5 separate regions of the Homo sapiens genome follow, and all the other regions are linked to region 3. The links come from fine-mapping of genetic effects on gene expression. A gene starts in region 3. Each other region holds a variant in brackets. All regions are shown on one strand. Distances are from middle to middle.

Evidence for each region. PIP is the estimated chance that this variant, and not a neighbour inherited with it, causes the effect.
Region 1: its variant is fine-mapped to the expression of KLHDC10 in lung (TOPMed, PIP above 0.99).
Region 2: its variant is fine-mapped to the expression of KLHDC10 in whole blood (TOPMed, PIP 0.95).
Region 4: its variant is fine-mapped to the expression of KLHDC10 in whole blood (TOPMed, PIP 0.99).
Region 5: its variant is fine-mapped to the expression of KLHDC10 in whole blood (INTERVAL, PIP above 0.99).

The regions. Positions count from the first base shown.
Region 1 is chr7:130,141,820-130,146,951 of GRCh38, reverse strand. It overlaps LINC03008 (long intergenic non-protein coding RNA 3008), which reads right to left. Exons shown (of 2, transcript NR_149034.1): 2 at 4,334-4,693. Among named protein-coding and RNA genes, the nearest start is that of LINC03008, 2.7 kb to the right of the region's middle. RefSeq lists an enhancer at 4,660-5,132. The variant C/T (reference allele first, on the strand shown) is at 2,052.
Region 2 is chr7:130,096,067-130,101,066 of GRCh38, reverse strand. KLHDC10 (kelch domain containing 10) reads right to left here. Exons shown (of 10, transcript NM_014997.4): 2 at 4,060-4,146. Among named protein-coding and RNA genes, the nearest start is that of KLHDC10, 28 kb to the right of the region's middle. The variant C/T (reference allele first, on the strand shown) is at 2,047.
Region 3 is chr7:130,067,705-130,072,827 of GRCh38, reverse strand. It overlaps KLHDC10 (kelch domain containing 10), which reads right to left and starts at 2,294. Exons shown (of 10, transcript NM_014997.4): 1 at 2,019-2,294. The coding sequence starts at 2,184. RefSeq lists a silencer at 2,090-2,259 and enhancers at 2,360-2,549, 2,580-2,779.
Region 4 is chr7:130,881,473-130,886,604 of GRCh38, reverse strand. LINC-PINT (long intergenic non-protein coding RNA, p53 induced transcript) reads left to right here. Exons shown (of 8, transcript NR_170176.1): 7 at 2,209-2,288; 8 at 3,869-5,132. Among named protein-coding and RNA genes, the nearest start is that of MIR29B1, 6.5 kb to the right of the region's middle. RefSeq lists an enhancer at 1-128. The variant T/C (reference allele first, on the strand shown) is at 2,081.
Region 5 is chr7:130,133,926-130,139,057 of GRCh38, reverse strand. KLHDC10 (kelch domain containing 10) reads right to left here. Exons shown (of 10, transcript NM_014997.4): 10 at 3,353-5,132. Among named protein-coding and RNA genes, the nearest start is that of LINC03008, 5.2 kb to the left of the region's middle. The variant A/G (reference allele first, on the strand shown) is at 3,074.

The DNA of each region.
Region 1 (5,132 bases), 74 kb before region 3:
GGCAGGCTGTCCTCAGGCAGAGGTCACAGGGCTCCTGTCAGCTCCAGGCTCAGAGCCTTAGGTCAGCAACCCCAGGAGAAAGAATGTGAGTCTTTTTTCTTTAGGTCTCGCTCATGTCACCCAGGCTGGAGTGCAGTGGAGTGATCTTGGCTCACTGCAGCCTTGACCTCTCAGACTCAAGTGATTCTCCCACCTCAGCCTCCCAAGTAGCTGGGACTATAGGAGTGCACCACCAGGCCCAGCAAACTCTTTTGTATTTTTTTTATAGAGATGGGGTATCGCCATGTTACCCAGGCTGGCTCTGAACTCCTGGGCTCAAGTGATCCACCAGCATGTCTCCCCTAAGTGCTGAGTGTGAGCCACTGTGCCCTCTTTCAGTTCTTTAGGAAAAAGTATAGTGGGCAGGGTGCAGTGGCTCATGTCTGTAATCTCTGCACTTTGGGAGGCCAATTTGGGCAGATTACCAGAGATCAGGAGTTCAAGATCAGCTTGACCAACATGGTGAAACCCCGTCTATACTAAAAATACAAAAAAAAAAAAAAAAAAAAAAGAAGAAGAAAAAAAAATTAGCCAGGCATGGTGGCAGGCACCTGTAATCCCAGCTACACGGGAGGCTGAGGCAGGACAATCGCTTGAACCCAGGAGGGGGAGGTTGCAGTGAGCCGAGATCGCACCACTGCACTCCATCCTGGGTGACAGAGCAAGACTCTGTCTCAATAAAAAAAAAAGAAAAAAAAAAAGAAAGAAAAAGAAAAAAGGAAAGAAAAGAAAGAAAAAGAAATAGTGAGTAACATAGAGAATATGCTTGTTCCTACTGAGGTGTGTCATTATCTTCACATTCTGCCCCGAGCCTGTGTATAAAAAAAGTTTAGAGAAACATAGGAACATTAAGAACAAAGACACTCAAGTCGACTCTTTCCACGAGGCCCCACTGTGTGAGTTTCCTAGGGCTACAAAAACAAAGTATCGCACACTGAGTGGCTCAACCAAGAGAGATGTATTATTTCACAGTTCTGGGGCCTGGCCTTTGAGGTAAAAGTGCCAGCAGAGTCAGCTTCCTCTGAAGGCTGTGAGGGAGAATCTGCCACGCTTCTCTCCTGGTTCTGGTGGTCTAGTGGCAAGCCTTGGTATTTCTCAGCTTATAGACAGACGTGTCAGCCAGATCTCTGCCTTCATCTTCACGTGGTATTCTGTGTGTGTGTCTTGGTTCAAATTTCCCCTTCTCATAGGGATACCAGTCGTACTAGATTAAGGCCCATTCTAATAACCTCATTTTGTTTTTGTTTTTTTGAGACAGAGTCTTGCTCTGTTGCCCAGGCTGGAGTGCAGTGGCACAATCTCAGCTCACTGCAACCTCTGCCTCCTGGGTTCAAGCGATTCTCCTGCCTCACCCTCCCAAGTGGCAGGGATTACAGGCGCACACCACCACGCCCAGCTAATTATTGTATTTTCAGCACAAACGGGTTTTCGCCATGTTGGCCAGGTTGGTCTCGAACTCCTGACCTCAGGTGATCCGCCCACCTTGGCCTCCCAAAGTGCGGGGATTATAGGCGTGAACCTCATTTTAATTTACCTCTGTAGAGACCCTATTTCCAAATAAGGTTACATTCTGAGGTTCTGTAGGCTAGGATTCCAACATATATTTTTTTGGGGGGGATGGGAGGGACACAATTCAATCCATAGCATCCACTAAGGACACAGCCCTGCCCTGCCATGTGGCAGCTGATTGGAGTGGTGTTGCTATGAAACAGGGAGGGCTGCGTTTATAACCAGCCCAGGCATTGATTATATTCCACCTCGGAGCACCCATGGGTAATTTCACAAGCAGGCTGCAATTCACACCTGGATCTCCCATTAGAGCAACCTGTCAGTGGCTTGCTTGGTTAGACACATTTTCCAGGTGACACAGGACAATTCAACACGTGGCAGGTCAGCTTTCGCTCTGTGGGTACAGACAAGCCCCCAGCAGTCACGTCCCAAGGCTCTCCGGGAGACCTGGGTGTACCAAGAGCTTTTCACTTTCTGGTTTTGTCTCTGTGCCAATGAGCCCA[C/T]GCCTGACATTCCACCGGTGTAATTCCAAGAAGAATTCTCTCAAGATCAATTGCCCAACACATACTTACTGTCTGACACAGCCATTTGTATTCCTTTTAGAGTCCTTTCTTGCATTGCTGACTTCAAGAAAGCAAATTAATTATTTGAGACACCGCTATTAAATTGACACAGTGATTAATCTGATAATCCTTTTTATGAAATTACCTCTGAAATGCTAACTTTTCATCTTTTGAAACTCACTGCGTAAATTACTCTGAAGATTACATTGTACCAGCTTTCAGCTCTGTAAATCTTAATGGCAGTTTTTCGCCAAAAGCAATAAAAGCTGTCCTGAATTTATCAGGTGAATCAGGAAAGAGGCAGGCGGGCAGGAAATTGAAGGTGACTCCCTTTGCAAGTGGGGGTTTCAATGGATGGACTTTGAAACCTGTTGTTGCTGGTTACACACAGCGAGGAACAGGAAGCAGACAGGAGCATGGAGCCCCCGGTGCAGGTGTCAGGGCTGCCTGTCTGAGAGAAGGGCTAGTGTGGTTCTAAGAGGGTCTTCTCCCCTCTTTCCTCTCCCCCAACCCCTCCCAGTGCGCTGCCAGGCTGAGCCCATCGGTAGTGGTGGAGGCCTCCAGCACATCCCACTTGGGCTGAACCCACAGAGAGCTGCCTCATTGCCACTGCCCCTGCACAATCCCCAAAAGTCTTTGGTGTGGGGTAGGGGCAGGGAGCACACCTGGGCTATTGCCCTCCACCCTGCTTTTCCTAGCGGGCAGAGTCTTGGCCTCAGGATGAATTTAATTTCTCCAATTGTGCTAGCAGTTGTCATGTAGAAGGACTCTTTTTTTTTTTTTCTATTTGTCACCCACTCTGTCACCCAGTCTGAAGTGCAGTGGCCCGATCTCAGCTCACTGCAACCTCCACATCCCGGGTTCAAGTGATTCTCCTGCCTTAGCCTCCCAAGTAGCTGGAATTACAGGCAAGTGCCACCACGCCTGGCTATTTTTTTTTTTGTAGTTTTGATAGAGATAGGGTTTTGTCATGTTGGCCAGGCTGGTCTTGAACTCCTGACCTCCAGTGATCCGCCCACCTTGGCCTCCCAAAGTGCTGGGATTACAGGCATGAGCCACCTCACCTGGTCGATGTGGAAGGACTCTTAAAGCCTGGCTGGGGCTACGGGCCTGGTGGCAGTAACAGCATCCACCTTCGTTATCTTTTTAAGGCCAGTCTGTTTTTCTTTTTAGTTGTAACCTCTGTGCCTCACATCGTGTGCTTCACCAGGAGTGTGTTATGCCACTCTGCCAGCCTCTTCTAAGGCCGCAGCACACTTCCCACTTGTTGGAAGGGGAACTGGGGAAGGACACAGCCTACTGACCCCATGGCCCCATTTATCCCCCCATCCACCCCTCCATCTGACAGCGTACACTGAGCATCTACTATGTGCTAGGCTCTAAAGAATACAGACAGAACAAGAACAAGGCAGAGACGTTTCCAGTCCTCATGGCACTTCCATTCCAATGGAGAAAGTCTGGCAATAAACAAGGTGTGTACTAAACAAGATGGTGTTCCATTCTTTGGGAAGAGGACAGGGAGTGGAGAGTCCTGAGCAGAGGGGAAGACTATACAGTTTTAACCAGAGAGGGCAGGAAAGCCCTTGCTGCCTCACTCGCCTCACCCTAGCCCTGGCTCTGCCTCATTGAGAAGACCACATTAAAAAACTGAAGGAGGCCAGGCACACAGCCATGTGGATACTGGAGGAGGAGACCTCCAGAAAGAGGGAGCACGCTTGACCGCTCAAGGAGCAGCAAGGAAGCCACCGTGGCTGGTCGAGAGTGAGCAAAGGCACAGTGGTAGGAGTTGAGGCCAGAGAAGTTTGGACTGTGCGGGCCCTGGAGAGAGCTGGGTAAATGGGACATTTCAGGGTGTTCTGCAGGCAAAAGCAGGCCCTCCCACCCTCAGTTCTGTTCTGTCTCCGGGCAGTCCACAAGCACCTGAGGGCCCACGTGAGGAGAAGAGGCCTGGGTTTTCCGGGCCTGGAAGCTCCACTGCCAGAAGCATTCGCCCCCTGGCCCAGACAAACCAAGGTCAGAAGGCACCTCCACCCAGGTTTCCACAGGCGTCCCTGCTGCTGCTTCACTGGGCTGAAGCTACCCACGTTCACTCAGCTTTGCCAGGGCAGGATGCTTACTCCCTACAACCTCCCTCTGTGCCGTTTTTCTCCTATCCCTGGGCACGCAGGTGAAAGCTAAATGAGGAGAGACCCGCCCCACACCTGAGTGGCCAGGCTGACTCCTGTGGTGGAACGAGTTTTTAATAAAACCAGAAGAGCTTCCCAATTCCACGCCTCGCTGCAGTCTCTTCACCTTGCTCCAGAGGAAAGACCCAGAGTATGGCAGGGCTGCGGTTAGCGAGGGCTTTGGTCAGCAGCTGGAGAGTGCCGTAGTGACATGGTGACAGTCCTCGGCCCCCAGGAGGGGCGGAGGCCACCCCTCTGGGACCCCCAGCCCTAGAATCCCATGCAGGAGTGACTCTGCTGTCCCATCACACTCACAGCTGCAGCAAGGATGCCTTTCCAGCAGTCACACTCCCACGCAGGGGTCAGCCTTCCTCCCAGGGGGAGCAGGGTGGAGCGGGAGCTGGTCCTCCCAGCATACTGCAGGCGGACAACAGTGGCCTGTTTCAGGTGACACCTGTCTTTGGGCCCAGGTCCCACTTCTGTGGTTGTCCCCAGGCTGAGCTGCCCCCTGGAAGGGTTTTCTGGAAAGGACCAGAGAGGTGTGGATTTCGGAATCTCTGAGAGCTCTGGCACCTCTGTTTTCTGCTCCCTGGGTTGAGTGGCCAGAAGAGCCTGTGTGCTTGCATTTTCGGTATGACCCCTGGCCCTTATGTGTCTCTGTGTCCCCAGGCCCCTGCTCAATTCTCCACTTCACCGAGGGTGCCTGACCCCTCTCCTTTTCCCTCCATCCCCCCACTTCTGAACGCACCCCACCGTGTGCATGGGAGGGTCCTTCCTCCCTGTGGCTTTTCCGGGGAGCCTTTTCTTCTCCCTGAAGTCACCCCCGCATATCCCGGAGAGCCACAGCGCCTATCCC
Region 2 (5,000 bases), 28 kb before region 3:
CCTGGATTCAGACACAAGTAATCTAGTTTCAAAGTCTCCCTTTTCTGTTTTTTTTGTTTTTTTTTTTTAATTACAATGATTTATTCTTTGTCTTATGTCTGTTTTGTCATTTCCAATGACATCTGAGAAGTAGGGAAAAGTAAATGGGTATGTTAAGTCTGCCATTTTATAATAAAAACCATTGTTTTCATTACGCCATTACTGTTTTCACTACACCACAATTTTAATTGGTAGAAATATGTTTTAGAGAAGATGTAGGACCTAGTGAAGAGGAATCTAGTGACAGAAAATGGGCCCTATGAAACTGTCTACAATCTGAACCAAGAGAGGTGATATAAAGAATTCCAAAATATCAGGCTTCAAAGTGGCTATTTCAAAAGTATAGATAAGTTAAAAACAAACAAACAAGCAAAACCACACAACCTATTGAAGCATTAAACAATAGCATTTTCATGTTCTCAACAATTCATTAGTTCACTGTCACCAATACCAGAGAGAAGTTGAGAACATAATAAAATGTTACTCCCATCCTATTTTCTGACAGTGGCCTTTACAATACTTTAATTCAAGGTCAAATACATATGATATACCTGCTACATGCACTATGCTACAAACTGGAGTAAAGATATGAAAGGCACTGTCCTATTGTCCCTGCCCTTACAGAGCTTACAGTCTAATGGGAGGCACAGACAAGTAAACAACTACAATTCAGTGCAATAAGTGCTATGATATAGGTAGGTACACGGAGGGTGCCATCAGAACAAAGAGGGGAGAGGCCTGCCAAGGAAGTTTCCCTGGAAATACTCTTGGACTGAGTGTTAAAGGATATGCTATTAATGCTATTATTGGTTGTTCTGGAGAGACTAAACTGAATTTATTATCCTTTGCCTAAAATCTACATCTAATTTCACTTCCACTTCCTTATATGTCAAATCAATTCTCTACTTTTTTTTTTTTTAATGAGACAGGGCCTCGCTCTTTCACCCAGGCTGGAATGCAGTGGCATGATTATAGCTCACTGTAGCCTCGAACTCTTAGTTGCAAGCAATCCTCCTGCCTCAGCCTCCCAAGTAGCTGGGACTACAGGCATGCCCCCACCACACCCGGCTAATTGTACATGCGTGCATGTGTGTGTATGTAGACAGACAGGGTTTCACTCTGCTGGATTGCAGGTGTAGGCCACCATGCCCGGCCCCTATTCTCCATTCCTATTACAACTACCCTCATTTCAGTCTCCATCATTTTGCACACTAATAACTATAATAATCTCATAATTAGCCTTTAATTAAATTTCTTCACTAGCTAAAAAACCAAATCTGATCCTGAAAACTCCACTTGGGTGGTGCCCACTTGATCTGGGCCCTCTCCAGCCTCTTTTGTCCACCTCTTTCCCACTGTGCTGAACTTTCTCTACATCTCTAAAAACACCATGTCCTGTTTTGCCTAAATGCCTTTACTCAAGCTGCCTGATCCCCATGGTTTGAGAGGATCCAACCCTCCTTTGCTGACACCTACTCAGCCTTTAAGCACATCCCTTCTGATGTCATCCTCATGGCCACTCCTCTGTCACCCTCCTTCAGCCAAGTTGAGTCAGATACCTCTCCTGTGTGCTCCCATAGCATGCTACCTCATCAGAACACTTACCACAAATAATTATACTCAAATTATTCTGTAATTGTCTGTTTACCTGATTCTCTATTACTTAGATCATCAGGCTAGCACAGTACATAGGAAGCAATCAAGAAATACTGAAAGAATGAAAGAATGAACGAACGAACAAACGAAGAGACTTAAGCCTGTGAAAGTTGATGAGACAACTAAAGGAGATAATGGAGAGGACAGAACACTGGAACAATATCCACCTTGAGGGAGCAGGAAGAAAGAAGCTAGTGAAGGAAACAGAATGAACAATCAAAGAGGTAGGAAGAAAACATCTAGAACTATACAGTAAAGCAACCCAAAAAAAGAGAAAAATTTAAGAAGGGCAAGTAGTCAACAGCCTCAAACACTACAAAGAGGTTAAAGAAGGTGAGAACTAAAAGAAGG[C/T]CACTAGTGATCCTGATGTTGCTGATGCTGAGTTAACTCCCACCTCAATTCCAGCACTGCCAGGGGCCACCTTTCTCAACCACTGATTGAGGCTATTGAGGGCTTACAAATAACCAATGGTATAAAACTTACCTGTGCAATCTTTTTTCTCCACAATCAAAAAATTGAAAAACAAACACCATACAAAAGAAAATAAAATCCCCATCATACAGATACAACCTGTTATGTCACTATTTGTTTTTTATGTTTATGTGTTTTATATCATTATTATGTTGAATTATATATCCTAAACAATTCCTTAATTATGCTTATATTTAGTATGTATAATTAATTATATTAATATAACTAAAATGAAGTTTAATTTATGCTTTATTCAGCACAAGTTAGATTTCTCATTGGAAATTGGTAAATTGGCATTCTAACTTATAAATAGAAAAAAGAAAAAATGCTATAGAATTAGACATGCCTGCTTGGCCATGTGTGTACAATGGATAATACTAAAATCATCTAATTTTTTTTCTTTTTTTTGGAGAAAAGTCTCACTCTATCGCCCAGGCTGGAATGCAGTGGCACAATCATGGCTCACTGCAACCTCTGCCTCCTGGGTTCAAGTGATCCTCCCATCTCAGCCTCCCATGTAGCTGCGACTATAAGTGTGTACCACCATGCCCAGCTAATTTTTGTATTTTTTACAGAGACAGGGTTTCACCGTGTTGTCCTGGCTGGTCTTGAACTCCTGGGCTCAAGCAATCTGCCCACCTTGGCCTCCCAAAGAGCTGGGATTACAGGTATGAGCCACCCAGCCTGGTCCTTAATTCTTACTAACAAAATTTACTCATGCTAAAAGGTGGTACACCATCTTGAGGATCTTATCTTGACCCATTTTATGGTTGATTTTATGCATGCTCTGGAGCTCAGGTGACAAAAATAGGTTAGGAACTAGATATAGAAACATCTATAGCAGTTGCAGGATTTTTTCCTAGGTTAAAAAAAAAAAAACTCCAGTTAAAATTAGATACACTGGGTTGTAAATAATTTAATACAGTCTAAATTACAACATTAAGTATGCTTGTGTGATAATTTGTTGTATCTAGAAAAATAGTGTGAACCAGAGTTTTCAACCCTCTTTTGAGATTTTCTTTTTTCAGTATGGAGTATGTATTAGTAGAAAAAATAAAAAGTAGAAGGAATGCAACATTTCTAAAAGTAAAAACTGCTAGGTCAAAGGGTATGAATATTTCTAAGGTTTTTAATACATATTACCAAACTGGTTTCAGAAAAGCTGTATAAAATTTATACTTCCTTCAATATATGAGCTTTATCTTCCCATACCCTTGCCAACATTGGGTATTCTTATTTTTGGTCTTTGCTCATCTAATAGGTAAAAACATCTTATTGTTTTAATTGTTGTGTTTATAATAATAGTAAAAATAAATACTTGTTCATAATTATTGGCACTTCTTTTTAACAAACTGGTAATTCTATATCCTTTTACCTATTTTTCTAGTGGGCATTTGTTTTTAACCTATTGGTTTATAAGAACTCTTTATATATTCATATTACCCCTTTGTTAACAAATAATTCTCTTTTTTATCTTTTAATATATGACATTTGACATAAGAGGTTTTTTATTTTATACCATTACATAATCTTTTATTTCTTCCTTAGAATCATATTTAGAAAATTCTTTCCCACATCCATATTTTATAGATTATTCACTCAAAATTCTTTCTAATATGGCTACTGTGGAATACCATTTATATCAGTGAGATGATTTATCTCTACCATCTAATAATACACTAAGTGATTCTGACTCCCTGAAACTTACAATTACAATCCCAATAGTGGCCAACAAGAAACAGGTTTAAAATTAAGTTCTAGATTTTTCTTATTCCAACTGTTTCATTAGCTGTTTAGATGATTTTTAAAAACCAGAGTTTTGAGCTTAGAAAATTCATTCAAAGTTCCCTTTAACCCATACGAAGCACAGATCTCTTGCTAATTATCACCCACCTCTCAAAAACCTGTTAGGGATCCTTATGATGGGACAGGACTGAATGAAGCGCCTCCTAACTGGGTCCCATCGTATTTTCTTCTTACCTGTTACCACAATTATCAGCAATAAGTCAGACACATACAACACATTGCAAATAATACATAGTTACTGTAGTTATAAAGACAGAAAAACAGGAAACAAAACAATACTTGAATACAGAAAGAAAGTGACGTAAAGTAGCATTTAACCCTGTTTTGGAAGTCAAAATTAAATTAACATATAAGCAGTGATGAAGGTTTTCAACTCTTACCCCCAAAAGAATACAATTTTGTGCACCGTTTTTGGGAATTCTGGTTCAATAGCATGTGCACTCAATAATCACCAATGCCATCTTGTGGCAAAAATTCACCAGGAGCTTTATGAACAGATTAGAAACGATGACATTTTTAAGTCAGTTAATTTCAAAATGGAGCTCTGAAACTAATTGGACATAACAGAGGCTCCTGTTCTCTTCAAGGTTATATTAATTATATGGTTAAGAAGATAAAGCAATGGGCACCATTCTTTAAATACGAAATAAGCTGACTCTACTATAATTAAATTTTAAAACAGCAACCAAATTAAACAAACATTTAATATCTTGGCACTTCCATGGGGGAAGGGAGGGAAGGGGCTCATCTGCCTTCCCAGGAAGCAAATTACCTCCATGTTAACCCCAATTAAAATATGTTTTCTTATAAAATAGAATAAAAACCTAATTAAATTAATGGAACTATTATGGGGTAATTATCTCTTTTCCCAAAGTTTTGATCGCTCCCAAATATAGCTCTTATTGACAATAAAAACAATTAACACTTGCATAATGTTTAGGGTTTACAAAGAGCTTTCACATATATTACCTCATATAATTCTCACAACAATCCTGTATTGATTCAACAATCATTTTATTAAGCATCTG
Region 3 (5,123 bases):
CCGAGATCGCGACACTGCACTCCAGCCTGGAGGACAGAGTGAGACTCCATCTCAATAAATAAATAAATAAATAAATAAATTTAAAATAAAAGGTTTTATCTCCAAGGCCCGTCAACCAAGCCTAGACATCCTATTCCTCCCCATCACCTAAAATCTTTTAAAATCTATCAAAATGCAAGAAAAGGGAGAGGCTTAAAATGCAATACCTAGCAGAATAAAGAATTGGTATGAAAGAATTTCAAACTACATAATACATTGAGGTATCAGATGTGTCCCAATTTTGAGAATGAGTAAAGGAGCAATGAAGTGTCAGTCAAGAGAAAAGGGAAGCAGAAAAAAGAGACTGATGACCCCGCTTTACAAATTTTCACAGTTTAGACACGTTTATCTTTACCTCCGGATAAATGGCTGTTCTTGGTCTTGTGTGCTAAGGGAATGCAGAAATAGCTCTACACTGAAGCCCCTTAGCAGAAATCATGGCTTCCACTGCCATCACGTGGTTGAAGTGAGGAAGTGCACCAAGCAGGTTCTAGGAACCTAGGAATGCCTACTTGAAGCCCATGGTATAATTAATCCGTGATCAAAGACCTAAAGATTGCGGTAGTAGAGGGCAAACTGGTGACAGTGTTTGCTAAGAGATTCATCTTCTAAGCTGCCAATACACAAAAATCTAAGTTTTTATTATTAATTGGGAGTAAGAAAAAAGATTGCTCCTTTTTTCTTTTTCATGTTAAAGATCGTATATTTAGCAATTCTAGGATGCCCAGTCTGATATTAACGTCTCAAACCCAACTTCTGGTATATTATATGACTACTTACAAATGCCTCGATTTAATGCATATAAATGGGGTAATGTACATTTCTAGCACACATCAACAACCTCATCACGAACATAAGCAATTGTCTCATTAAATGTGCTAAATTCCCTTTGTCATCTTCAATTTAATCAAATAATAATTTTTGACTAGAAGTATAAGGTACAGTCTTAAGCACAATTCATAAAAACCAATTCATCATGTTCTCAAAACTCATCAGCTAAACAAATATATCACTAATATAATCAATATTATTCACAAAAAACACGATGAATAATTAACACATCATTCCTGATAGTTCTTTTCATAGTAAAAATAAGCTTGCCCAGTGGGATATTTGACGTTCTCTGCATTATTTAATTCCCTACCTTCCTTCTACTAGATTGAATATTCAATTACAAACATACCTCTTTAAAATTGTCTACACATACATATCCACTTGATTTTATTTTGTTTTCAAAAGCATCTGAACTCAAGGCTAGGGCACTGTAGACCAAAATGTCAAATAATTGTATTGGGTACATTTTTCCAATTCTCAGTTGTTTTTATATTGTAAACACAGCATAATTGTGTCACTAAGTATATTTTTGATCTTCACTTTCTCCCCTTAAAACCTAGACACCATTATCCTGTCTCTGAACATTCCAAAATATTAATAATCCAACTAGTTTTCCCTAATCCTCTAGGTTCTCTTTCCCATACACTCCCCAGCCAACACTCCCCCACCCCTTTCTTCCGTTTCAGAATGCCTCTTACACACACGCCCCGTGTAGTTTTTACAAAATCACTCCTTGGAATGCGTTTCCTTCTTCTCTCCTTAACTTGGCACCCTTTTTGAAATAATTTCCCACAGCTAGGCGCCAATGTCTTTCATTTACAAGATCAAACTGCGGAAGGGGAAGAGATTGGGAATCGAGTAACCGAAACATTTGGAAATGTCAATGAGACAGTGGCCTCTCCTTTGAAAAGAAAACACAACTCTCAGCACAGAGCTTTCAACAGAGCACAGATACTTTTCTTCGCTGTGCTCCTGTTCCCTCCCTGACCTCAAAGACACCTTCCCTTTTCTCTGATCCCCAGTCCCTCTGCTATGCGTGGGGCCTGCCTTTCCTCCTCCCAAGGAAAAGCAAGCCAGGGAGAAAAAGAAAAGGTAGCAGTCACCTTCCCGCCCGCAAGCGGTCAGGACCCTGTCCCACGACTCACCTGGCAGGTGCGGCCGCCCGGAGAGTTGCACGAAGCGGTTGAGCTGGCCAGTCCCCCGACCCCCGCTGCCCCCACTGCCCCCGCCGGCCCCGCTACCTCCGCCACCAGCGCCGGCGGCGCCTCCTCCCCTCCGGCGGTTCCTGTCCCAGCCCTGGGCGGCCGACATGACCCGCTAACGATTGCCGCAGCCCGGTCCCGTCAGCGCCTGACCCAGCGGAACCAGCGGAGCCTCCTTCCTGGGCTCCTCCAGAGACCCAGGAGACAGGGGAAGGGGGCAGCGCCCGGTCCCACCAGAGACCAATGACTTACCGCCTTGGTGAAAGGCAGCCAATGGTCAGTCGTTTTCTTGGTAGGTGGCGGGAGGCGGAGAGAAACGTGGTAACCATAGCTATGGCTAAAAAAAAAAAAGTAGGGGGAGAGAAAGGCAGAAGCAGCCACTCCTAGCTCTCATCGTCCGCTCTGGGCTGGCCGGCGTCACCCCGACTCCTGCGGGGCCAGGCGGGCCAATCGAAGACCGAGTGTCAGAGGCCGCGCCTGCGGAAAGACTCCCGGGGACGGCCAGTGCCTCAGTCTTGGTTAGGATTCAGGAACTTTTTCCCATAAACATTGCAATCAGACACTGGATATACGCATAATACACATATTTGGGGGCAAGACGGTATTCTGCCAGCTTTTCAGATTGAGATCCCATTCACTGATGGTTGACACACACAAAGGGCTTGCTTGGGGTCCGGGTAGGTGAGGGGACCCAGGGGCGGAGTCAAAGCTAAAATGTAAGAACCAGATATTCCTGGGTTTCATTTGTCTTTCAGTCGGCTTAGCTGCATTTGTCCCTGTATAAGCCACGTCCCAATCAAACAGTTTTAAACCTGGTTAACAAATATGGGAAAATGTTCACTCTCACCTGTAATCTTAGAAATACAAAATAAAACCCCAATGAGAAACCATTTCTGGTTTATTACATCAGTAAAGACTTTTCAAATAACACCTGGCAGTGTGTGGAATGCCAAGAAAAAGGTATTCTCATAGATGGCTGATGGCTCTGTAAATATTTTTGTTCGCTCAAACTCCTTTTGGCTAGTAGAAAATTTTAATCAGCTTGGAAGATATATAATCAAGAGGAAATGTAAAATTAAATAAAAGGCAGCAACGGGTATGGAAGATCAAGATCAAAGAAAATTTTTAATGTGCCGATCAGGAGTTTCTATTGTTCCAAAATTAAACAGAAATTTTGGCTTGAAACTTACTGGGCGCAATGCAGACTGGGAAAACATACTATACACTGATGTTTCTGAATGATAAGGAAAAAGCATATCAAATTCCTCAAGGGAAACAAAACTTTTCAAGGTCCTTAGATGTGACAGATTTTTTTTTCTTTTGCATTAGAAGAACCTTACATGGTTGCAGAGAAAAAAAAGAAACTCTGCTGGAGCTGAGGACAAATACCCTTTGTACCTGGTGTGCAAATTTCTGGTCGCCACTGGCACTGCCTCCTTGTTTTCCTACTTCCAGTCCCTGTAGGCAGAAATGTTTTAGTCACTAGCACCATAGCACGCTGCTTATGAAAATGTTTGAGACTTGAAAAAAAAAAAAGCCTATGGTTCTAAAATATAAAAACCAAAATTAATATATGTTAACTGTTTTTTTTTTTTTTTGAGACGGAGTCTTACTCTGTCGCCGAGACTGGAGTGCAGAGGCATGATCTCGGTTCACTGCAACCTCTGCCTCCCAGGTTCAAACAATTCTCCTGCCTCAGCCTCCCAAGTAGCTGGGATTACAGGCATGTGCCACCACGCTCTGCTAATTATATTTTTAGTAGAGATGGGTTTTCACCATGTTGGTCAGGCTGGTCTCCAACTCCCCATCTCAGGTAATCCACCTGCCTTGGCCTCCCAAAGTGATGGGATTACAGGTGTGAGCTGCTGCGTCTGGCCAGTTTTTTATGTATATAGGCAAAATGCAGTCTTACACATTTTACATGTTTAACCTGTCTAATCCTCACAGAAATCCTATGAAATGCTGTTTTCCCAATTTGCAAAGCAAATTTGTAGAGATAGGGCAGTGTGTGGGGATGAGGGGGTGGTTTTGCCTTGTTGCTCCGGCTAGTCTAGAACTCCTGGCCTCAAGCCATCCTCCTGCCTTGGCCTTCTAAAGCATTGGGTTATAGGCATGAGCACCACGCCCAGCCAAAGTAGATTCTTAAGTAACACTTTTTAATTAATCAACTGGGAGAGATGAAATAAGAAAATAACATATAAAGTTTTGGTTGGGCGCGATGGCTCATGTCTGTAATCCTAACACTTTCTGTAATCCCAACCCTTTGGGAGGCCGAGGTGGGTGGATCACCTGAGGTCAGGGGTTCAAGACCGCCTGGCCAACATGGTGAAACCCGGTCTCTACGAAAAATTCAAAAAAATTAGCCAGGCGTGGTGGTGGGTGCCTGTAATCCCAGCTACTCGGGAGGCTGAGGCACGAGAATTGCTTGAACCCGGGAGGCAGAGGTTGCAGTAAGCCGAGATCGTGCCATTTTCACTCCAGCCTGGGCGACAAAGCAAGACTCCGTCTCAAAAATACATACATACATACATACATACATACATACATACATACATACATACATACAATGGCCGGGTGCGGGGGCTTACGCCTGTAATCCCAGCACTTTGGGAGGCCGAGGGGGGCGGATCACGAGGTCAGGAGAGGGAGACCATCCTGGCTAACACGGTGAAACCCCGTCTCTACTAAAAATATTTAAAAAAAAAAAATTAGTCTGGCGTGGCGGCCCGCGCCTGCAATCCCAGCTACTCTGGAGGCTGAGGCAGGGGAATCGCTTGAACCTGGAAGGCGGAGGTTGCAGTGAGCCAAGATAGCGCCGCGGCACTCCGGCCTGGGCAACAGAGCGAGACTCGTCTCAAAAAAAATAAATAAATAAAAATAAAATAAAATAAAATAACATAACATAACATAAAAAGTTTTAGTAGTCCCAAGATTTGGCTCAGTAGCTATATGGGTAACTGCTATGATTCGAATGTGTCCCCCACAGTTCATGTGTTGGAAACTTAATCCCCAATGCAACAATCTGGAGAAGTGGAACCTTTAAGAATG
Region 4 (5,132 bases), 810 kb before region 3:
CCCATGAGTGCAGCGTGCTCGCCGGCTGGGCTGGAACTTGCTGCTCTTCTCTGCAGTGGCAGGCTGGCTTCTGCCCCTAGACTGGAACTGCCAAGGGCTGCTATAGAAGGGACAAACTTCCAGTGCTCACTGAGGAGCCAGGGGTATCCTGGGAAGCTGAAAATGCATTTGTCAAGCTCAGGTCTTCACAATTGAGAAACCCCATCACTAACCCGTACGGTTTTCTTGACCAAAACTTTCAGTGCTCTGTTTTTCCCATCTGTAAATAATGTTCATACATCTAAATCCTAGGAGGTTGCAGGGACAGTGGCTTAGAAAGTCACCACATTCTCTAAAGGAGTGACAGAGAGGATGAAAGAAGCATGCTCTATAATTAGGTTTTATTACATGCTTTTTAAGGTTAATTGAAGGACTTCCCAGCAGCTTCCCTAGCCACTTTTTCAAATACTGAAAGCTTCCAGAAAGCAGCAGACAGGTGTTCCTCACAATCTGACACAGACTTCAGTTACTGTTGAAAAGTGAAAGAGGGCTGGGCGCGGTGGCTCACACCTATAATCCCAACACTTTGGGAGGCCGAGGTGGGCGGATCACCTGAGGTCAGGAGGTCAAGACCAGCGTGGCCAACATGGCAAAACCCCATCTCTACTAAAAATACAAAAATTAGCTGGGTGTAGTGGCACACGCCTAAAACTCCAGCTACTTGGGAGGCTGAGGCATGAGAAAAAATCGCTCGAACCCAGGAGGCGGAGGTTACAATGAGTCAAGATCATGCCACTGCACTCCAGCCTGGGTGACAGAGTGAGACTATCTCACAAAAAAAAAAAAAAAAAGAAAAAAATGAAAGAGCTCCTGTCTGACGTTGGTTTTCTATACCCATTTTTATAATCAGACAATTTTGGAAACATGCTATTATGATAGTGTTTAAATATTCCAGAATTCTGTGTGTTCGGTAGCTTCACGTTGGTTTGATTGTTGTTTTACCCCACTGCCTCTTCCTTCCCATCTGTACTTCTCAGCTTGATTTTTTAGATGTATTTTCTGTTGTAGGACAGTATCAAATGGCTTTTTCTGACCATTTATTTTACTGGCCGAGCTCCTCTTGGATTTTAATCTCAACTCTCAAGAATCTTCCCAACATAATCTGTTCCTGTTGTGATATCATCTTTCTTGAGAGCTTCCCAGTCACTGAAGAGCATGTTCAGTAGCACCTGGCTTAAAGAGTCCACCTGCGAATCACAAATCATTGTCTTCACCATTCAGCTCCGACCCACACATCTGGGCAACATCATCCCCACTGGCCAGTAAGCACGGGGAATGCTCTGTGGCCTCAGCTGTGTTCTGGTTCCTCGGTGGAGCTGTAATCATTAACTTAGAAATTGCAATTGGTGGTAACTTAACAGAGCTTTCTTCATCAGACTGCTGAGTCATGCAGCCTCTTGCTGGGTAAAATGTGTCTTGAGATGTAATCCCCTATAAGGACACCCCCTTGGAGCCACTGTGAAGGCACTCCCAGCTTCCCTAGCAGGTCGCATCAGGGGGACGACTGAAGGATTTACTTGAACAATCAGTTTTCAGAAATGAAGACCCTACGACCTTGGCTTCCTCTCTTGTGATGCAGCTGAAAGATGCATTTCGTCTGTAAAGTTAGACCAGGTAGGAGAGAATGTGAGGTGGTTTCCATTCTTCTCAGTTGCCCTCCACCTGATTCTGAAGCCGTCACAGACCGTCCTTGCAGACCGGCGCTCCCCTCCACAAACCTTCTGCAGCCTGTACTGCTACAGCACGAGGCTGCAGAATCAGTTGTGAAAATAGAAGCCTTCTACCGTCTCCTGTGCGGGATCCTTGCCTGCCTTTCTTCTGTGATGGGATCTATAGGCTTAGACTGTGTTTTATTTCCTAAGACACCTTGCTGAGCAAACCTTGCTGCTCTGCCTCGTGTCAGCGGTTTCCTTAGCAACGGCCACACCTCACGTTTTCTCCCGCACAGAGCACCAGCATGAGGGGGCATGTGTTGCTCACTGTACAGGAACTTTCCCAACCTGTGTGTCTTAAGCAGGAAAGAGAAGGTGCTTTCTATTTC[T/C]TGTTTTTAAAAATGCATCTGTTGGTGACACTGGTGGAGAAACATGTTTACGAGAAAACAACTGACTTTTTCTTCTGCTGTTACTCCAGGAGATTTCCTAGGAGCTCATACTGTCATTTAAATTCCAGGTGCAGGTCTTCTGAACAAATGCCTCCTGAGGATTTCTGTGCCTGGAAAATATCTGTTAACAGACTGCTTTTACACCTACGTAAGTAGAGGCTTCTGCTTATAAGTCAACCTCAAGGGAGTTTTATTTTGTCCCTGGATGATTCCTCAGTACATTTTTCTTTTTCTTTTTTGAGGTAGGGTTTTGCTCTGTTGCCCAGGCTGGAGTACAGTGGTGTGATCACAACTCACTGCGGCCTCAACCTCCCAGGCTCAAGCGATCCTCCCACCTCAGCCTCCCAAGTAGCTGGGACCACAGGCGTGTACCACCCACGCCTGGCTAGTTTTTTAAAATTTCTTTTGTAGAGGCAGAGTCTCCCTGTGTTGCCCTGGTTTCAAACTTGGGCCAAGTGATTCTCTGCCCCAGCCTCTCAAAGTGCTGGGATTACAGGTGTGAGCCACCGTGCCTGACAAGCCTGATATGTTTTTTTAAATGATCATTAGTATTTGATCTCTACTCTTTTTCTCTCAACCACCCAACTCCCGGTTTACGGTCAGGAAGAATCTATAACATGAACTCCTGCTTAAAAACAAGGGTATAGATCCCATATTCAGGTCTTAGACTGGGAAGAAGAGAAGGCAGTCAAAAATATTAAATATATGAATTTCAGTAAATTCAGTTGGGGATGCCATTTCAGCTTTGCAGTCAGTTACTCCAGAATATGTCAATGTATGGCAAAGCATGTGACAGCAGGATCTCTGCACCCTCTCCATTTACCAGCTGTGGTGGATCTCTTAGCCACATCTCTGTTTATAATGTGCTTATTGAAAACTAATGTATTACTTTTATTATCATAGCTACCATTTACTGAATATTTACATTGTGCTAACACTGGTTCAGATGGCTTCATCATATTTACCTGATTTAATCCTCACAACAACCTTATGTGCTAGGTCCAGTTATTACCATCTTTTTTTTTTTTTGAGACGGAGTCTCACTCTGTCGCCAGGCTGGAGTGCAGTGGCGCGATTTCGTCTCACTGCTGCAACCTCCGCCTCCCAGGTTCAAGTGATTCTCCTGCCTCAGCCTCCCAGGTAGCTGGGACTACAGGCACATGCCACCACGCCCAGCTAATTTTTGTATTTTTATAGAGACGAGACTTCACCATGTTGGCCAGGATGATCTCAATCTCTTGACCTCGTGATCCGCCCATCACAGCCTCCAAAAGTGCTGGGATTACAGGCGTGAGCCACCGCACCCGGCCTATTACCCTCATTTTACAGATGAGGAGACTGAGGCACAGAGAGTTAAAGTGATTTGTGCAGGGTTGTGTGAGGAGCTGGTGGCAGAGCTTGGCATTCTGGCTCTGGAGTCTGCATTTGGCCATCTCACCGTACAGTGTCATAGAAACAGGAAACTCGAGAAGATAAACTGCCAGGCTGTATTTTGGAGTCAGTATTTTAACACTGTCACCATCTCAAGCATGATCTGTGGGACTCATCACTGTGCTCTTTGACTTGAACTTCTTTAAGGTTAGTGGGAAAATGAAGCTTTAGAGAAGATGGGACTGGCCTAAGGTCACACTGCATGTCAGAAGTGTGGTGGAGGGTCCAGGTCTTCTGACCATTCAGTGCAAGCCAAATTGTGCTAATTTCCAATTTTTCTCCCTTTCTCTTGGTGAGCTATTTGGTGCTACTTCTACTCCTCATGACCAAAGCTGGCTTTCATGGTTTACTCATGTACTTACTGATGAAACCCTGAGACTTGGGGCCAGTGACTGTTCAGAGGTCCATGTGAAGATGCGCTGAATGGTATAAAGGACAGAGCAGTAAAGAGTGCTGGCTGAATGCCTGGGCTGGCAATCAGGCATGTTGGAGTTTGAGTCCCAGTCTGCCACTCCAGCTCTGTGACCAAGAGGAAGTGAAGTCATGTACCCTTTCTAAGTCTCTAGCCCCTCTTCTGAAAGACGAAGATGCCACCACCAACCATGTTAGTGGTTGTGAATGCCAAGAAAGTCCATGTGAAGCACATAGCATAGTGTCTGCCATGCGTTAAGTGTTCCAAAAATGGAAGCTATGACTATTTCACAGAGTACACTTCCCATCACTTTTCAGTTCATTTTGGCCTTCTCCCTCAAAAGCACTCCAGTGTTCTGATCCAGCTGATAAAACACCAAACATTCACATAGTGCTTTAAAAGTGACCCACTGTTTTTACAGACTGCATTACATATGACCCTAACAACCACTGCAATATAGAAATTCGCATCTCCATTCTCCAGATCAGGATACCGAAGCTCAGAAAAATTAAATGATTTGCCCAGGATCACATAGTTAGTAAGCAGCCCAGCCAGATCCTGTGTTAACTTGTTCATCCGCTTCCTATAAGAAAACATCCATTCAAGGCACATGGGGCAACAAAGAAGGACTTAGAGCTGTGTGGCCCCTCGTCAGGGCAGTACCAGTTGCACCCATAGTCCGGCCTGAATACTCAGCTTAGGACTATTGTGTCCAATGTCCCAAACATTTTGAAGCTACATCTTAAAGAAGTGTCCTGCTCAGATGCAGTTCTCCTTGTGAAATCCGCAGGCCCCAAGGAAAGTGACTTTAATCCAGTTTGCTCATGCAAGAACAGACTGGCATTTCACATCCAGGAAAACAATGGATTTGTACTGTTCAGCTTTTGCCATGCAAGGAGTTCCTGGTGTGGTTTATTAATTTACATCTCAGGCTCCAGCTTCACTATCAATCAGATTTGGAAGAAAAAAGTTACAAAGAAAGGCAGCTTGCTGAGAAACAGCGGAAGCATGACGGTACAGACTGGGTTTTGAAATGGAGACACATTCTCATGGCTTGTGGGCTGAGAGACACTGAGAAAGGATTTTGTTCTTGAAAGATGATTGTTTTAATGCTGGAGATGGAGAGTTTTGACAATTTTAAGTGCATGT
Region 5 (5,132 bases), 66 kb before region 3:
AAGGTTCTGCTTTAGGAAGGCGGAAAAAGTAAAAAAAAAACAAAAAATCAGGATCACACTCAAAAACCAGCAGTCACTGCCACAGCCCCTCTGTGTCGTCACCTGTCTTACTACCATGAGCTCTTGCAGCTGTTTTTTTTTTTGGATACTCACCTTTTTTTTTTTTTTTTTTTTGAGATGGAGTCTTGCTCTGTCACCCAGGCTGGAGTGCAATGGCACTATCTCAGCTCACTGCAACCTTCGCCTCCCAGGTTCAAGCAATTCTCCTGCCTCAACCTCCCCAGTAGCTGGGATTACAGCCACCCACCACCATGCCCGGCTAACTTTTGTATTTTTAGTAGAGATGGGGTTTCGCCATGTTGGCCAAGCTGGTCTCAAACTCCTGACCTCAGGTGATCTGCCCATCTCAGCCTCTCAAAGTGCTGGGATCACAGGCGTGAGCCACCATGTCTGGCCTGATATCCACCATTACTCTCTAATTTACACGTGTACCTGGCTGTTGCTTCAATCTGAGACATTCTGTTTATCCCCTTCCTGCTATGGAGAGCAGGACTCAGCTCACTTGCATCACCACCCTCCCTCCCTCGTCCTACATTTAGTTTCTTCTTTATTGGTTAACTTTGTAATTTTTAGTAAATTTTTTTTTTTTTTAGTTGGAGTTTCGCTCTTGTTGCCCAGGCTGGAGTGCAATGGTGTGATCTTGACTCACTGCAACCTCTGCCTCCTGGGTTCAAACTATTCTTCTGCCTCAGCCTCCCAAGTAGCTGGGATTACAGGCGTGCGCCACCACGCCCGGCTAATTTTGTATTTTCAGTAGAGACGGGATTTCTCCATGTTGGTCAGGCTGGTCTCGAACTCCTGACCTCAGGTGGTCGGCCTACCTCAGCCTCCCAAAGTGCTGGGATTACAGGCGTGAGCCACCATGCCCAGCCTTCAGTTTTATTTCTTATTCCATCAACTAGAGAGCAATCACAGTGAATATCTCCATAATGCTTACTATATGCCAGGCGTCATTTGAAGTACCTTACCCATATCTACTTATTTCAGCCACACAGTATGAAATAAGTAGCTAGTATGGAGAGAGGTTACTACTGTTAGCCCCATTTCAGAGAAAAGGAAACTAGGGCCATTTTGTTATTATTTTAGTGGTTCTCCAAGAAGGAGCGGAGAATACCTGTGTACTCGGTCTGCCACTGAGTTCTAATGGGCAAGGATTGGGAAATGTTCATTCTGGCCTTTGCAGTGAAGTCTCCTGCTGGACAATGAAATATGACAATAAAAAGTAAGGTAACAAAATCTCTCATCTTGGCCGGCACTGGCCAGTTAGCTCAGCTGTGGGTCAGGGGTTCCCAAATGTCTTAAACCAGCTGAATTGGAATCAATGAAAGAGTTTATTAAAATTACACACTTATTAAAATATAATCCTTGGGGTTTGGGCCCAGGAATCTGTATTGTTAACAAGTATGGATCATGGTTTTGAAACCAGTGGGTTACAGGTGGCTTGGCAGTGGCCGTGTTCTAGTCCCTACTCCATTTTCAATACTTTTTCTTGGAGCCTGCACTATGCAAGTGGAAATCCTGACTGTGCCACTCACTAAGGAACCACCTGGAGCGGGCAGCAGACCTCCCACCACGGTGGGATCAGTGATCTTAAGATCAGGATCGAGTTTAAGAGGTAACTCCAGTCCTAGCACTGCACACCTATGGTACTCACCATTATGCTGCAGCCTTTTTTGGCCAAACATCCTAAATAATGTTAGATCTTGGGGATTATCTAGCCAACCTCCTCCTATTTGACAGATAAGTAAACCAAGACCCAAAGAAAAGCAAGTTGCATACAGAACAGGGCTATTATGGACTGAGCCAAGAGCAGAGCCCTTGTCTCCTAACCCCCAGGTCATCTCTTCCTAGAATTGCACTAAGAGGTAGCCACTAGCCATGTGTGGTTATTTCCCTATAAATACATGAAAATTAAATCAAATTAAAAATTCAGTTTCTCAGCCATACTAGCCACATTTGAAGTACTCAAAAGCCCCATGTGGCTTGTGGCTACCACCATATTGGGTGGTGCAGATACAGAACATTTCCACCATTGCAGAAAGCTTTATTGCTCTAGCACTGGGCTAGAACCTGGCCTTTCATTTGAAGGCAGTAGGGAAACTGGATGGTTTTACCAATGTTTTCTTCCCTCAAGCAATTACTGCAGAAGATTAACTACAAGAGAATGTGGTTGTTGTTAAAGTAGCTTAACAACATCATTTTAACAAACTAGAATTATATACACATAAACTGGAAGAACAAAACCACGCAAACCAACTAGGCCACTGAAACTCCTCCCACTAGGCCAAGATGGGTCTTAGATGCCTTATCTAAGAACCAAATCAGATGCACATAAGAGTCCATTTCAAAGCTCTGGCTGGTCTGAAGACTGAAAGGTATAGGGTGCATTTCTTATATCTGGTAGCTTGGAGAGGAGTATAGTTAGGAGAAATAAACCCAAGGAAAGAAGACTGCTCTGCATAATAAAGTATTAACTGTAAGGTGGATGAATGGGTAGAAATTGTTTCTCTTCTTCCTTGTAGATGTATATTGTAATATCTAAGATTATTTGTCCATGGAAGGTGTGTTTGATCCAATAGTTAACCAATGGAAACACTGAAAAATACAAGGCATCTGTTCAGTTCTAGAAGGGAGACCTTAAAAGTGACCAGACTTGGGAGTATCCTTCCCTACCTACTCTGGACTACACAGACATGGAGAAAAGCACTGCATGGAGAAGGATTAGAGGATTAGAGATCACAGCATCATAAAACAGAGGTTTGTTTTGGTGAGGGAAGCATCTGGAAGACCAAGGGCAGAGCTAGGAAGTGTAGTTTCACCCCCAGAGGACCCCTGCACAGGGCTCAGCAGCTCCTGGGGCTCTTCCCTCAGATCATAAAGACAGTCAGATGACTATATATACGGGTTCACATTTTCCCTTTGAATTCTCTGTAGCTCTTCCAACCCTTCAGAAAAGTCTTGATATACCTATACAAACTTGTCTAGCAGTGGTTTGGGGAACATGGGGTGGGGC[A/G]GTGAGAGGGAGTGTGGGCTGCCCGACAGTTGCTCCCTTGCTGATGTCTTTGTGGAGGGAGCAGTGTGCTGGTGAGGGAACTCTTGTGTGTCCAGGAGTTCCAGATAATGAGCAGATAAAGAACCCACAGTGGAGTGGGGGTGGAAGGCAGATGACTCACAGATATTACAGAGAAAAGCTGAGCCTGGTGGAGGTGGGTAGGACTGACGCTTCTGTCATATAGGTGCGCTCACGTACACACAAATTACCATTAGACAATCAAGGTGAACTTGAACCAAATTGATTTGGATAAGATTTATTGATCAGATTGTTTTAGAAAACCAACAGCAAAACACTGACAAGGTACATAAATACAGATTGGACATTTTAGGGTAAATTCACTGTATTTCCTACTTGCTTGTAGGAAACCGAGTAAAGTGGAAAAGCTGTCCTGATCATATGGCATGCACACCAGACTGCAAAAGGACGTCCACACTATTTAACAGGACTGTGGCAAAATAGCTTTAAAGTAAGGCGAGCATTGTGTATGGCCCAAGCATACCCTGTAGGAAGAGCAAAGCTAGGCTCACCTCTCAGAGACTGTGTCTCAGAAAGAGGCTTCCTTTCTTGCCTAGGTTCTTCCATGAAATTCGTCATTGGCAGGTGCTTTTCCAGGGAGATGCCTGTGCTCTCCCTGTGCAGACTCTGTGCACAAGGAAGTGGCTTTAGAGAGTGTGTTTTCTGATGCCTCCTTTATATTCTAAATGTATAACTAGTAAAACAACAATTACTACCGCTTGGTGAAATTGTTTTTTGTTTTTTTCTGAAAACTGCCTCTGACTCCACCCTGTACACTGACTAAGCAGGGCCCTTAAAAAACTTATAAAAAGTTGTTTTTTTTTTTTTTTTTTTTTCAAATTAAAAACATGAAAATTACACCAAAAAGATGGAACTACTTTTGTAGCACAACTCAGAACTTCTGTTCGTAACACCGGACTAGAGAAGAGGTCGCTTTTGGCTGAATCTAATGACCTTAGAAGGGAAAGGCCATTGCTGGGCAGGATCTGGTGGCAACGCACACGGAAGTCCTAGAACTCTATGAAGCCTACCTCAGGCCCTGCGGGTGCGTCTGGAGTTCCAAGGCATTTGGGGAACCAAAGCAATTTCAGCTAACAGTGACCAGTTTTTAGAATGGAGCTTATGATCAGAGGACCATAAACCCTCATCCACCCTAGAGCTCAATGCCAGAAAAATAAAAAATAATACAAAAAATAAAGGAAAATAGCTTTTTGTGCTATATCAGAATGCTGGCAGGTAGACAATTCAGTAACCTGTGCCACTTTCTAAACATCTGTAAGACCACAAAAAAAAAATGGGTTTTACAGAATACGAAGACCAACACAGTCTTAGAGGATCATTCAACCTTTCCTACATGCCAAGCTGTGTGATTGGAAAATAGAAGAGCCATAGCTCTTGCAAGATTAGAGGAAAAGCAAGTATTTGTCAAGAGCCAAAGAAATGTGTTCAAATAATGGAGTTTCCTCTGTGTCGCACACAGCTTTTCCTTCCCGTAGGTACTAAGAGTTCTTTGGTGGTTAGAGAGATGGCCTGGAGCTCAGGGCAGGAGATGACGCTGAAGAGCTACATCTACTCAGGATTACCACCTGTGGTTCCTAATTTCAGCATTCAACTCTAATTGTTCAGCCTGACTAATTACAGGCAATCAGCTGCTTATATGGTCACTGGTTGTCAGCTCCTACTGATTATTCCTTTTCCTTTTCTACCTACTCATTAACCCCATTCCATGGAAAAACAGGTGCTTACAGGAAAGGATAGGGAGGAAAAAGAAATGTAAATGAATCTATTGTTTGGTAGGAAAGTTGATTCACTGATTATCTATGGATTTCAATGATCTGTGCTTTACTCTTGCTACTGTGGATAACCAAAGGTCACTGTTAACGTATCTTTTGCTTAAAAATGTTAATATGCTTATTATGCTTTAAAATCTAGCTATTTAAGGGCATGAATGGTTTAAAGCAAATTTTTACATCATGTCATTATGGCCCTGAAAAAAGGAGAT